Linked DNA regions of Homo sapiens. The protein of the gene in region 2 purifies or fractionates together with the protein of the main gene of each other region. This does not show direct contact. Each region holds a gene or a part of one and is shown on either strand. Other genes may lie near its edges. The genes, in order: KIF14 and TJP2.

Region 1 (7,500 bases), on a different chromosome or scaffold from region 2:
CCCTTTCTTTAACCAATGTACAAGAAATTACTCACTAATAGAAAAGTTGCCCTATTAAAGCTTCTCCACTTCATTCAGGTTAACTAAAAATACTTAAGAGTATTATCTAAAATGGGCTTCTGGGAACCCAAGATTTCCAATAAACCATGGAGACAGCCATGACTCAAGCGGCTAGAGGACAGAAGTTTCTCTTTATTTTTATTCCAGTAGCCATTGTCTATTATCGCCACCAACTTTTTTCTTTTTTTTTTTTTTTTTTTTTTTTTTGAGACAGAGTCTCACTCTGTCAAGGTTCACTGCAGCCTTGACCTCCCTGGGCTAGATGATCCTCCTAGCTCAGCCTTCTGAGTAGCTGGGACTACAGGCGCATGCTACCACACCCAGCTAATGTTTTAAACTTTTTGGAGAGACCGGTTTCCCTACATTGCCCCTGGCTGGTCTTGAACTCCTGGGCTCAAGTAATCTGCCCGCCTTGGCCTCCTAAAGAGCTGGGATTACGGGCATGAGCCACCATGCTCAGCCCTGACTTATTTCTTAAAGTAAAATTAAAGAGGGCCAAGACTCACTGTGGCTTTGATTCACTAATCTCTGATCTCTCCCAGTTCCCTTATAGGGACATAATCAACTTTATAGGCAACACATCACTTGGGGTACACTGTCGGAAAAAAAAAATAAAACTAATTCTGCCTTTTACCAGTTCTGCTTCCAGTGCTTTTATTTTGCTTTCATATGCAGCTTTTTGAGAAGAAAGCTCTTGCTGAGCCATTTCTTTTGCAATCTGGATTCCTTGCATCATTTCTTCCTTTGCCTTCAACTGAGCCTCTTTTATTTCTGCTTCAAGTCTACAATGTAGCAAGATGTTTATAGGGTACATGTTAAGAATTCTTTATACATCATAATAGTTCTTAATCCTACTGAAAAGTTTTCCATTGAATGAAAGTTTCAATCTTAAAACTTGATTTCTGACATTCTATCAACAGTGTTTTTAAAATTTTCACTGGCTCTACAATTGTTTACACTCAAAATTTAAACACGCAGGACGAAAAATTGCTTATTTCTAACTTAGTTACTATTGCAGATGCCTGACATTTAAATAAAATCAGTGCTTTAGTAACTACATTATACAGAAATTTCCATTCCCAATTTTACTGAAAAAAAGAATAAGAGTATAAAAAAGAAGGTTAGTGGATATCACAGCTAGGGAGAGAGGAGAATGGCTATTGTTTAACAAATACAGAGTTTCAGTTTGGAATAATAAAACATTTCTGGAGATGGATGATGGTGATGGTTGCACAACAACGTGAAGGCACTAGGGTGGGCACAGTGACTCACGCCTGTAATCCCAGCACTTTGGGAGGCCAAGGCAGGTGGACTGCTTGAGCTCAGGAGTTCGAGACCAGCCTGGGCAACATGGTGAAACCCCATCTCTACAAAAAAATTCAAAAATTAGCCAGGCGTGGTGGTGTGCGCCTATAGTCTCACATGCTCGGGAGGCTAAGGTGGGAGGATGGCTTGAGGCCAGGAGGTGGAAGTTGCAATGAACCCAGATCATGCCAACTGTACTCCAGCCTAGACGACAGAGCCAGACTCCATCTCAAAAAAAAACCAAAAAACAAACAAAAAAAAAACCACAAAACAATGTGAAGGTACTTAATGCCTTTGGACTATACAATTAAAAATGGCTAACATGGTAAATTTTGTGCTATTTATATTGTATTCAATTAAAAAAATTCTTTTTAAAGGGCAAAAGCAGGTTGAGGCTTCTTAAAAGGTGACAAAGCAGTTAGTCTAGCCTATAACCAGTTCTTGATTCCTCCTCCTTTCATCCTCTTTAGTCACCAGGCCTTGTCAATCTTATCTCCTTTATGTTTCCTTCCTACCTAATCACACTATATTTACCTTACTTCAATAGTCTCTTAGCTGCATTTGCAGGTTTTAAGCTTGCTCTATCTCTAATGCATTCTCCAGATTTGAGTGCCAGTGATCTCTCTAAAAATGTAATTCTGATTATGAGTGTCTCACGTCTGCTCAAAATTCTTTAATGTTTCCCTTATCCTTTAAGATAAAGTCCAAACTCTTTAGCATTTTATTTGTATATACTTTACCATTTAGCTTACAAGGATACTACTTATGCCAGAAATCCTACGATACTGCATGAACTAAAACTGGGGCACAAGAAGAAAAGAAAAACAAAAGTACACTCTCCCAGTCTTCCTCTGGCTAAATTCTAATCGTCTATTGGGATTCTCCTCTATGGGACGTCTTCTCATCTTCTAGAAACCTTCCCTGATAACCGGTCAGGGCCAGGTGTCACCCCGTGAGCTTCCACACCACACAGTTCGGGACTCTTGTCAGAGAACTGTGTCATAGCACTGTTATAACTGTCAGCCCCTCGAGATGATGAATTCTTTCAGCACATGAGCTAAATTTCAATCCTTATTCTTTATATCTCCAGCATTTGGTACAGTGACAGACACATAATAGATGGTCAATATATATTTGGTGAACTAATGAATGTACTAAGAGAAAAAATTATATCACTAGAAACCAGCACCCAAAGAGTTAATTACTAGAGACTGGCACAATGTGATTAACTCTGTTGTAGATCTCTCTCATACACTTACTATTTCATATCAACAGCATACTTACTGTGATCTCTGTGCCATGAGCAACTCATTTTTTGCAAATTCAAAGTCTTTTGGACCCTCACTTATAGGAGTATCTCTTCCAGATGGCCTTTTTCCTTTCTGGACTTCTACTGGATGATTAAATCTAAAATAATGATCTCCACCAAGAATCACTCGATCACCCTAAAGCACACAAAAAAATGTACTACTTGAGGTGAGTCTCAACCAAAAAATTAAATGAGAAAATTTATTTTGCCCAACAATTCAATATAGTCTAGTATTAATGATAAACATAAACATCATAGCAACTAACATTTATTACTTTTTTTTTCTTTTGGCACAGAGTCTCACTATGTCACCCAGGCTGGAGTGCAATGGCACAATCTCAGCTCACTGCAACCTCGGCCTCACGGGTTCAAGCAATTCTCCTGCCTCAGCCTCCCGAGCTGCTGGGATTACAGGCGTGTGCCACCACACCCAGCTAATTTTTGCATTTTTAGTAGAGATGGGGTTTCACCATGTTGGCTAGGCTGGTCTCGAACTCCTGACCTCATGATCCACCCACCTTGGCCTCCCAACGTTTATTACTTTGTATATACCAAACACTGCATTAAGCACATTACACATATAGTCATATGTCTCTTAACAACAGGGATATGTTCTGAGAAGTACACTGTTAGGTGATTTCATAGTTGTGTGAATATCATGGAATGTACTTACACAAACCTGGATGGTATAGCCTACTACACACTTAGGCTATATGGCATAGCCTATTGCTCCTAGGTTACAAACCTGTACAGCATGTTACTGTACTGAATACCATAGGCAACTATAACACAATGGTAAATAATTGTATATCTAAACAGAAAAAAATACAGTAAAAATACAGTATTATAATCTTATGGGACCACTGTTACATATGTGGTCCCTCATTGCCCAAAACATCATTATGAAGTGCAAGACTTTATGTTATCTCATTTACGATTCACAACAACTCAGTGAGATACATATAATCATCCCAATTTTAGGAATGAGGAAACTAAACAGCACAAAGCTTAATAATAACAAGAGACATTCATTGAGAGCTTACTATTTGCAGATACTATTCTAAGAACTATATACACAAATTATTATTTCAGTTAATCCTTCACTATCTCTGAAAGGCAGGATATATAGAGTCACAATAGGTCTGGGTTTGCCTGTAACACACTGCTGATGTTTGTTCTCTTGATGTAATTATTAATAATGATCTCAAAAGTGTCCTGACTTGGGTGACATTGTTTAATCATCTAGTTAAATAACTTGCCAGACGTCACAGAGCAAATGGCAAAGCCAGGATTTCAACCCTGTCTGTCTGATTCTAAAGCCTAGCTCTTTATAGGACACATAATGATGCTATTAGTGGTCAGCTCTTCAGGTACTGATTCATATAAATGTAACTTTTGTCTTTGCACAAGAAAGCAATTAATAGGAAAAAGAATTTTTGAAATGAAAAAGTCCTTAATCTGCTTCAACACCCTTATCTTATAGAGAAAACCAGAACTCAAAGAAATTAAATGACTTATCCAAAGTCGAACAGTTTCTTATATTATAGCACCCATCCACTTACATGACGTAATACTGTGATTTCCAAAATATGTTTTCCATTTACATATGTCTTTGCTTCCCCAACTGGGATAATACTCACTGTCCCACCAAAATTTTTGATAGTACTGTTAAAATAAGAAGCACATAGTTAACAATTATAGAACACACTAAAAAGTAAGAAAAAGGCAATATGGGATAATTCTGCTTGGGCTATTCCTTTGGTGTTAAGATTCATACCAATATGTAACAATAATTTAAAATTATTTTATTTTCCTCCAACTAGTTTTTTTTTTTTTTTTTTTTTGAGACGGAGTCTTGCTCTGTCGCCCAGGCTGGAGTGTAGTGATACAATCTCAGCTCACTGCAAGCTCCACCTCCTGGGTTCAAGCAATTCTCCTGCCTCAGCTGCCTGAGTAGCTAGGATTACAGGCACCCACCACCATGCCCTGCCCAGCTAATGTTTGCATTTTAGTAGAGATGGGGTTTTGCCATGTTCGCCAGGCTGGTCTCTAATTCCTGACCTCAAGTGATCCACCTGCCTCGGCCTCCCAAAATGCTGGGATTACAGGCATGAGCCACTGCATCGAGCCTCCAATTAGATTTTGAAGTTTGGTGAAAAAAGCCTGGCCTCTAGCAATCCGATCCACCTGTGGTGGGAACATTCTTCATTGGGTGTATTTTTATTATAACTTCTTTGAAAACAAAAACCTTCCCCCAAAAATTCAAAAAAAAAAAAAAAAAAAAAAAAACTAGCAAAAAACATTAACATACTGCCAGTGATTTCTTATGAATAAAACAGTTTTAAGTGTTTTTTTAATTTTCTAAGCTTCTGGTTTTACATATGAGCTTTAATAACAGAAAGAACAAATATTTCTCCCCTTTTGAAAAGTAGGGTACTACAGAGGAAGGAAAAACATGGAGATCAAAGTGTACCCCTTAAGACATCTAATTTACTGGATGATAAGGTGATACTGTGGAAAATCAGCTATAAGTGCTACATATTTGAGTCTTTTTATTCAGAGAATAGGAAAGAAACTCCAAAGTCCAATTCATCTTTGGATTAACGGGATAGAAAGAAAAACTGCAACAAAAGCTGAGTCCTAACCAAAGATCTTTTTAGCTGTGGATTAGGCTCCAAGATCTGTGATTAGAGAATAATAGTTTAATTAAAGCATCTAGAGAAAAGTACATGGAAACAATAGTTCACCCTTAGGCACTACATCCCTCCTACCAGTCTAGTGTCTTATCCAGGTGAAGGTTTATACAATGTGTACTTGTTCTGATCCCTTTCCTCTCCTAATTCTATCTACTCTGCTCTCAAAATTCCATGGCCTACCATTCTGGACGCCCCACAATCTGGCTTCAACCACCAACCTCCCTCATCTGCCACTATTTTCCCATAAGAACCCCATTTCACACTTAATCAACCATATGAATACTCTGAATTTGCCTTAATGTCAGCTTTCCTCCTTTCCTTGAGTCATTCCTTCCAGATAGGACATCCTCTCCCTTCTTGCAACCATTCTTGAAGGCCCAATTTAGAGTCCTCTAAGAAGCTGTTCTTTAGGGTTTAAGTTAGAAGTCAACTCTTCCTTCTCTTCACTTCTAAGCAGTAAGTATGCAGTACTCATAACACTTAATATGCATTAATAGATACTGAAGTTCTTTTTTTCTCTTTCACATGACCAGCCTCAGCCATGAAGTTCTTTTATTCATTAAGCCTCCAAGAGCCAGTTATGTGTCAGCAATGAAGACAGACATGAAATCAGCTTTCATAAAGTTCATGGTCTAGTGAACAAGATAAACTGAGGAAGGTACGAAAAATGGAAGTAGAGAGTTAGAGGCAAGCAAGAGGCTTCCAAGTTCCTTACTGGACTCTTAACTCTTTGGGAGCATGTTCTGTATCTTTGCCACAGATGTTAATAATACTGTATTTATTTGTTAAAGAAAATAATTAATTAATAAAAGAGCAAAAGAACCTAAAGAACAAAAGGATATGCCCTAACAGATATAAAGATTCATGGCCAGGTGCAGTGGCTCACGTCTGTAATCCCAGTACTTTGGGAGGCCAAGGTGGGTGGATCACCTGAGGTCAGGAGTTCAAGACGAGCCTGGCCAACATGATGAAATCGTCTCTACTAAAAATACAAAAAACTAGCTGGGCATGGTGGCTGCTACTCAGGAGGCTGAGGCACGAGAATCGCTTGAACCCAGAAGGTGGAGGTTACGGTGAGCCAAGATCACACTACTGCACTCCAGCCTGGGTGATAGAGTGAGACTCCATCTCCAAAAAAAAAAAAAAAAAAAAAGATATAAAGATTCATTACAGGCCGGTCGTGGTAGCTCACACCTGTAATCCCAGCACTTTGGGAGGTCAAGGTGGGCGGATCACCTGAGGTGGGAGTTTGAGACCAGCCTGGCCAACATGGTGAAACCCCATCTCTACTAAAAATACAACAATTAGCCAGGCGTGGTAACAGACATCTGCAATCCCAGCTACTCAGGAGGCTGAAGCAGGAGAATTGCTCGACTCCAGGAGGTTGCAGTGAGCTGAGATGGTGCCACTACACTCCAGCCTGGGCAACAGAGCAAAACTCTGAAATCAAAAAATAAATAAATAAAGATTCATTACAAAGCTCAAGTAATTACGACCATGGGGTATTAGTAGGAAGAAACAGATTCTGATATTTTTAGAAATTTTTTGTAGGAGCACTACAGATTCCAAAAGAAGCAATAAACTATTTAATATTTGGTACTGGGAGAAATGGCTATTCATGTGGAAAATAAATGAATTTAGATCCCTAATTCACACCAAATAAAAAATTCCAGACATTCAATAACTTAAATGTGAAAGCAAAACTTCAAAACATCTAGAAGAAAATTTAGAACATCTCTATGACCTCAATGTACAACAGTCTTTTTTTTTTTTTTTTTTTTTGAGTTAGAGTCTCACTCTATTGCCTAGGGTGGAGTATAGCAGAGTCATCTTGGCTCACTGTAGCTTCCACCTCCCAGGTTCAAGTGATTCTTATGCCTCAGCCTCCCAAGTAGCTGAGACTATAGGTGCCCACCACCATGCCGGGCTAATTTTTGTATTTTCAGTAGAGATGAGGTTTCACCATGTTGGCCAGGCTGATGTTGAACTCCTGGTCTCAAGTAATCTGCCGCCTCAGCCTCCCAAACTGTTAGGATTATAGGCGTGAGCCACCGCACCTGGCCAGAACACTCTATCTCTCTCTCTCTCTTTTTTTTTTTTTTTTTTTTTTTTTGAGACATAGTCTCGCTC
Region 2 (7,500 bases):
AGTTCTTTGAACCACTCAAACACACATTTTTTTACTGACAAGTTTTGCTTTCAATTGCCTAATTAATAGTTCTCTGAGAGTTCGCAAATGCACCAGAATTTTGTATTGGAAACCTAATTTCAATAGGCACTTTAATAAGCAAATAACAACCAACCAGTGACCTTTGGAGATTAAGGTTTCAAGGGGTCTTTCCTTAGAAATTTAACTTCCAGCTGGATAGCTACACTAAATAGAAGAATGGGGAAGCAACAGCCTTCCTTACTTCCAGCTAAGCTCACAGCCTCCTCTTCCTTTACCTTCTATTTCTGAGTCACTGTCATTTAATGACGGGATGTTGATGAGGGTCTGCTGGCTGTCTCTCAACACCACTAGCTGTAGTTTTCCTCTTGACTTTTCTATCAATTTTCGAGCATCCGTTAAAGACATGTTCTCAGTTACAGTCCCATTGATCTGTGTTTATAAAAAATGGTAATGTTAAATGCAATAAAATTATTCACAGTAGAAAATTCATATTTTCCCCTTCTAAAAATGTAAAGGCTTTGCTCAGATATTCAAACAGATATTGGCTTTAGGATGACTCAATAAAAATGAATTGTCGTTTAAATTAAATATAATCCTGCATGCCTGGATCCCAAATACAGGTGTAAGTTACTCTGCTAATTTATTTAACTTCCAAGCTCAAGACAACGGTTTGGTTTACTACTGGAACGTGTTTCCTGACTGGAGAGGTTTACAAGACCTATTAAATATTCAGCATTCATATATCACCAACTTTCCTTCTCATCTTTCCTTAGTTTAGGGAATAGGGATCTAAACTTTAAACAGGAAAGAAGAAAATATTCATGGAGTTTTTTTGTTTTTGTTTTCTAAACTGACATTAAACTGTTACGACCCTCAATGTCTGGTTTTTCTGATAAAAATCGTCTCATTATGCTGCTCTTGCCACCTCTGTCTTACCACTGACTCTCACTGGATCTAAGTCTCACTGTGTGGGTGCTGAATGTGGACATGCAGGCGATGAACGGCAGTATGCACACTACCGTTCTCTGCCCCCATCTACCCACCTTGAGAATTATGTCTCCTTCGTGAAGGTTGCCATCTTTAGTTGCCAGACCCGTTCGGGTCATTTCCTTTACGAAGATCTGACTCCCAAGCCGGAGACCATACTCTAGGAGACAAACACATAAACATACACGTATGTTATCAATTTGTTCAAAAAACTTAGTCTGGTTTATAGGACTATTTTAAAATATGTATTAAAAAGTTAATTTTGTATATGGGAAATTCTGTAAGATGACTGGCCTGAACTCTTCAAAAAAGTCAATGCCATAAAAAACAAAAAAGGTAGAGAAACTGTTCCAGATTAAAAGTTACATAAAAACCAAATGCAATGCATGAACTACCATAGGTCCCTGATCCAGTGGAGGGTGGGGGAAGAATGAGTTACATCATTTGGAGCAATCTGAAAATGAACTATAATATATGAAAGGGATATTAATGTTAATCTTCTTAAGTGTTATAATGGTATTACGGTGACTGATGTAGGAGAATGTTCTTATCTTTGGAAGATACCTCTGAAATATTTATGGGTAATGGTGAGTTGCCTGCAACTTACTTAAATAGTACCAAAAAACCCACTGAGAGAGGTAACAGGAAGGGTGATGGAGTAGAAGGAAAGAAAAAAAAAGGAGGAGGAAAAAGAAAGTGTGGCAAAATGTTAACAACTGGTAAAACTAGATGAAGGTTATATGTTTATTTGCTATAAAATTAACATTTTCTTTTTCTTTCTTTTTTTGAGACAGAATCTTGCTTTGTCACCCAGGCTGGAGTGCAGGGGCATGATCTCAGCTCACTGCAACCTCTGCCTCCCAGGTTCAAGTGATTCTCCTGCCTCAGCCTCTCAAGTAGCTGGGATTACAGGTGCCCACCACCATGCCCAGCTAATTGTTGTATTTTAGTAGAGACAGGGTTTCACCATGTAGGCCAGGCTAGTCTCGAACTCCTGACCTCAGGTGATCCACCCGCCTCGGCCTCCCAAAGTGCTAGGATTACAGGTGTGAGCCACTGCGCCTGGCCAAATTAACACTTTTCAAATAAAATGTTGGGGAGAAAAAAAAACAATTCAGCACACCTTAATAGGCATGTTCTGCTGACAATGAGGCTGTCTACAGGAAGGCACTGCAAAAAATCTAGCATTTTAGATTATATGAAGCTTGGCATTGAAAGGAATTCAGTGGGTGAAGAAAAGGGGTAAAGAAGTCAGGCAAAGTAATTAATAAAGCATTCAACTAAAACCAGCATAGCTTTGGGAGTTTATGGACTCTGAATTGCTATCAAAAACAAAAACATTGTAATTACTAAGTTATGCATATTTTTAAATACTTTCAATGCTACTTAAGACTCTTCTGGTTTTACTTAATAAACTTGTAAAAATACATTATTTTAAGAATAACTGTTCACATTTTAGGAAACTACCACAACAGAGCAGGTTTTAAAACAGGCACAAAATTTTTTATTATTGTTCAAACTAAAAATCTTATAATTACAAAACAAAGTAACTTTCCACAATTCAGGAAAGGTATGAAGTCAATTTTAAAATAAGTTTTAAATGATTTACGGTAAACTTGTCAGCCAGATCTTACCACAAAGATTAGAAGTGTTGTGGCCCATGCCCTAGTCCTTTAGGAAGCTGATAGTCAAGAATGGAATAAGGGAAGGGCAAAGCTACTTTCATGGATGGCGAGCCCCTAGTGGTCAAACAGCCTCACAGCCCAGAACAGAAGGCTGAGTGAGACAAGCTTGAGTGATAACATCTCTCTGGCATTTTTCAACAATTCCTCAATCCTCTTAAAAAATGCACTCATTGGCCAAGCATGGGGGCTCACGCCTGTAATCCCAGCACTTCGGGAGGCTGAGGTGGGCGGATCATGAGGTCAGGAGATCGAGACCATCCTGGCTAACACGGTGAAACCCCGTCTCTACTTAAAACACAAAAAATTAGCCGGGTGTGGTGGCGGGCGCCTACAGTCCCAGCTACTTGGGAGGCTGAGGCAGGAGAATGGTGTGAACCCGGGAGATGGAGCCTGCAGTGAGCCGAGATCGCGCCACTGCACTCCACCCTGGGCGAAAGAGCGAGACTCCGTCTCAAAACAAAACAAAACAAAACAAAACAAAACAAAACAGAAACGAAGCCTCCTAACACACAAGGTTCTTGTGAGGACTACGTAAAAGAATATTCAACATAGCCCTTGCATAGAGCAGAAACTCAACAATGATTAGGCGGAGTACTGTCCTCCACTGTGGTTTTCCACTTGAGATGCAGCAAGGCCACTAGGAGAGCTTATTAACATAGAGACTCTGAGGGCCCACCCCATGGTTTCTTTTTTTTTTTTTTTTTTTTTTCAAGACAGAGTCTCGCTCTGTCACCCAGGCTGGAGTGCAGTGACATGATCTCTGCTACTGCAACCTCTGCCCCTTGGGGTTCAAGCTATTCTCCTGCCTCAGCCTCCAGAGAAGTGGGGATTACAGGCACCCACCACCACGCCCACCTAATTTTTGCATTTTTAGTAGAGATGGGGTTTCATCATGTTGGCCAGGCTGGTCTCCAACTCCTGACCTCAAGTCATCCGCCCACCTCGGCCTCCCATAGTGCTGGGATTACAGGTGTGAGCCACTGCACCCGGCTCCACCCCATGGTTTCTGAGCTGGTGGGACTGGGTTGGGCCTGAGAGTCTGCATTTCTAAGGGGTGCCCAGGTGATGCACTGCTTTGAGAACCACTGGTCTCCTAGTTTAAAGCCAAAATTCTGAAGCCTGGCTCTTCCAATGATGACACAACTTTGTGTATATCAATGAACCTTTTGTGCCTCAGTTTCCTTGTCTATAAAATGGAGAAACAAGAGTCCTCCCTCATGAGGTAGTTCTGAGGATTAAACGAACGAATTGGTGTTAGGCATTTAGGTCAATGCTGGGTACAATGCTGGTTAAGTGCAATTAAGAGATAGCTCGGCCAGATGCGGTGGCTCACACCTGTAATCCCAGCACTTTGGGAGGCCAAGGTGGGCAGATCACCTGAGGTCAGGAGTTTGAGACCAGCCTGGCCAACCTGTCTCTACTGAAAATACAAAAATTAGCCGGGCGTGGTGGCAGGCACCTATAATCCCACCTACTTCGGAGACTGAGGCAGGAGAATCACTTGAACCCAGGAGGCAGAGGTTGCAGTGAGCCGAGATCATGCCACTGCACTCTCCAGCCAGGGTGACACAGTGAGACTCTGTCTCAAAAAAAAAAAAAAGTTAGCTGGCCAGGTGCAGTGGCTCATGCCTATAATCCCAGCACTTTGGGAGGCTGCAGTGGGCAGATCACCTGAGGTCAGAAGTTCAAGACCAGCCTGGCCAACACGGTGAAACCCCGTCTCTACTAAAAATAAAAAAATCAGCCAGGCATGGTGGTGCACGCCTGTGATCCCAGCTACTAGGGAGGCTGAGGCAGGAAAACTGCTTGAACCTGGGAGGCGGAGGTTGCAGTGAGCCCAGATTACGCCACTGCACTCCAGCCTGGGCAACAGAACAAGACTCAAGACTCCGTCTCAAAAAAAAAAAAAAAAAAAGTAGCTATTCCTGGCCAGGCGTGGTGGCTCATGCCTGTAATCCCAGCACTGTGAGAGATTCAGGTGGACGGATCACCTCAAGTCAGGAGTTCAAGTCCAGCCTGGCCAACATGTTGAAACCTGTCTCCACTAAAAACATAAAATTAGCTGGGCGTGGTGGCGGGTGCCTGTAGACCCAGCTACTCAGGAGGCTGAGGCAGGAGAATCACTTGAACCCGGGAGGTGGAGGTTGCAGTGAGCCGAGATCACGCCACTTCCCTCCAGCCTGGATGACAGAGCAACACTTTCGGGGGAAAAAAAAAAATTAAGAAAACAAAGGTTATTCATATCACAACAGTGCTTTTCTTCCCACATCAAGCATGCCTACCTTCGTTCGCTCTGCTTTTCATCAGGAGGACCCCGATGGGCCCCGGCCGCCCCCTAGGCTCGGGGCTGGGGCTCCGTGAGTGCGGGTGCTCGCGGCTGCGGCTTCGGGGTCCCCGAGAGCGGGCATCGTGGCGGGCCCCGCGCCTGTACTCCGGGCTGTAGGCCCGCTCGTAGTCTGGGTCGTAGGCCCGGTGATAGGCTCGCTCGTAGTCCTGGTCAATGCTCCGGCCGCGGCTGCGGTCACGGTCCCGGTCCCGGGATGGCCCAAAGTCGTGGTCCAGGCCCCGCTCCAGGCTCCGGCCACGGCTGCGGTCTCGGGTGCGCGCATGGTCTTGGTCCAGGCCCCGCTCCAGGCTCCGGCCACGGCTCCGGTCCCGGCTGAGGTCCCGCTCCCGGCTCCGGGCCCGCTCATGGGGACGCCCCCTTTCCGGGCTGTCCTCCCAGCTGCGGCTGCGCCCCCCATGGCTGTTCAGCCGGCTCCTCTCGCTGTAGCCACTCCGGAAACTTCTGCCATCAAACTCGTCCATCACCTCAAAAGCCCGGTCATCCTGATCCAGGGGAGGGCTGGCCTGAAGTGCGGCCACCTGGACCTTCCGGGGCCTCTTGACCACCTGTTGTCAAAACAAACTCAGTGTGGACGCAGGACAATCACAACTGAATGTGGAGAAGGCAGTGGTTAAGAGCCCTGGTTCTGGTTTCAGGAAAACCGTATCCCTGCCGACTCACTAAGGTTCAGGTTCCTCATCCGGAAACGGACAATAAAAATCTCACAGGGTTAGAATAGGACAATGACCGTGAAGCTCTGAGTACAGGGCCTTGAATTAAGGTAATAATAAAATAGTATCTCCAAAATCTGCTTCTACTCAAGTTTGAAAAGTCTCAGAGGCCCAAATCACTAAGTTATAAAACTCAAAAAACAAAAATCCAGAAAGTGTGACATTCTATACATAGCTGCCAAGGGGGCAAAGGCGGATAAAGAGAAGTTGATTGATGGGTACAAATATATGGTCTGATAGAAGAAATAAGACCTAATGTTAGATCGGTAGGGTGACTACAGCTTACAGGAATCTACTGTACATTCCAAAATAGCTGGAAGAAAATAATCTGAACGTTTCTACCATAAAGAAAAGACAATTATTTAAGGTGATGGATATTCCAAATACACTGATTTGAATTTTACAAATCATGTCTACAGCCATACCATCCTGAACGTGCCCAATCTCATCTGAATTTTACAAATCATATTAATGTATTAAATTAATCACACATACCCTATAACTATGCATTATGCATAAATTTTTAAAATTTTAAGGAAGAAAAGTCAATGCCTTATTTATTTATTTATTTAATTTATTATTAAGACAAAGTCTCGCTCTGTTGCCCAGGCTGGACTGTACTCAGCTCACTGCAACCTCCGCCTCCCAGGTTCAAGCGATTCTCGTGCCTCACCCTCCCGATAGCTGGGATTACAGGCGCACACCACCATGCCTGGCTAATTTTTGTATTTTTAGTAGAGACGGGGTTTCACCATGTTGGCCAGGCTGGTCTCGAACTCCTGACCTCAGGTGATCTGCCTGCCTCCATCTCCCAAAGTGCTGGCGTGAACCACTGAACCTGGCCCAATGCCATTTTTAAAGTGGGGGGTGGGGTAGAGGGGCAAGGGGAAAGAGGAACCCTTCTAGATTAAAAGGAACTAAAGAGATAATGATTAAATGCAATGAGTGAACTTTGGATCCTGGATAGGGAAGAAAACATATATCAAAGACATTTTGAGAGCTGCGTATGGTGGCTCACACCTGTAATCCCAGCACCTTGGGAGGCTGAGGTGGAAGGATCGCTTGAACCCAGGAGATCAAGATCAGCCTGGGAAACACAACAAGATCCCATCTCTAAAAATGAAAAAGACATCTTGAGATATGGACTGGATTTTAGATAATACTGTAAAATTATTACTTTTCTTAGATCGGATAATAGTATTATATAGATGAATGTCCTCATTCATAGGAAATGCATGTGAAGTAAGTAGAAATGAACTGTCATGTCTGTAACTTTCCTTCGCATGGTTGCCCAGAAAGACATGAGTGTTTATATACATACAGAGACCAAGTAAAGATGGCAGAATAGTAATATTTTAGAAGATAAATGTTTATTACACTGATCTTTCAACTTTCCTTTTTCTTTGAAAATCTTCATAATATAAAGTTGAAAAACATTAAATACCATATATGTGGCCGGGTGAGGTGGCTCACGCCTGTAATCCCAGCACTTTGGGAGGCCAAGGCTGGCGGATCACCTGAAGTTGGGAGTTCGGGACCAGCCTGACCAACATGGTGAAACCCCGTCTCTACTAAAAATACAAAATTAGACAGGTGTGGTGGTGCATGCCTGTAATCCCAGCTACTCGGGAGGCTGAGGCAGGAGAATCGCTTGAACCCAGGAGGCGGAGATTGTGGTCAGCCAAGATCGTGCCATTGCACTCCAGCCTGGGCAACAAGAGCAAAACTCTGTCTCAAAAAAAAAAAAAAA

What was found.
Region 1: the proteins of TJP2 (region 2) and KIF14 purify together in Homo sapiens (affinity purification with mass spectrometry; 2 studies listed by BioGRID and IntAct, with this or other methods). This does not show direct contact.

The regions. Positions count from the first base shown.
Region 1 is NC_000001.11:200,589,431-200,596,930, forward strand, and holds part of KIF14 (kinesin-like protein KIF14), read right to left. Parts: intron 4,340-7,500; coding exon 4,237-4,339; intron 2,811-4,236; coding exon 2,650-2,810; intron 843-2,649; coding exon 695-842; intron 1-694. UniProt on the Homo sapiens protein: Microtubule motor protein that binds to microtubules with high affinity through each tubulin heterodimer and has an ATPase activity. Plays a role in many processes like cell division, cytokinesis and also in cell proliferation and apoptosis.
Region 2 is NC_000009.12:69,218,972-69,226,471, reverse strand, and holds part of TJP2 (tight junction protein 2), read right to left. Parts: intron 5,586-7,500; coding exon 4,976-5,585; intron 1,169-4,975; coding exon 1,065-1,168; intron 451-1,064; coding exon 297-450; intron 1-296. UniProt on the Homo sapiens protein: Plays a role in tight junctions and adherens junctions. Acts as a positive regulator of RANKL-induced osteoclast differentiation, potentially via mediating downstream transcriptional activity.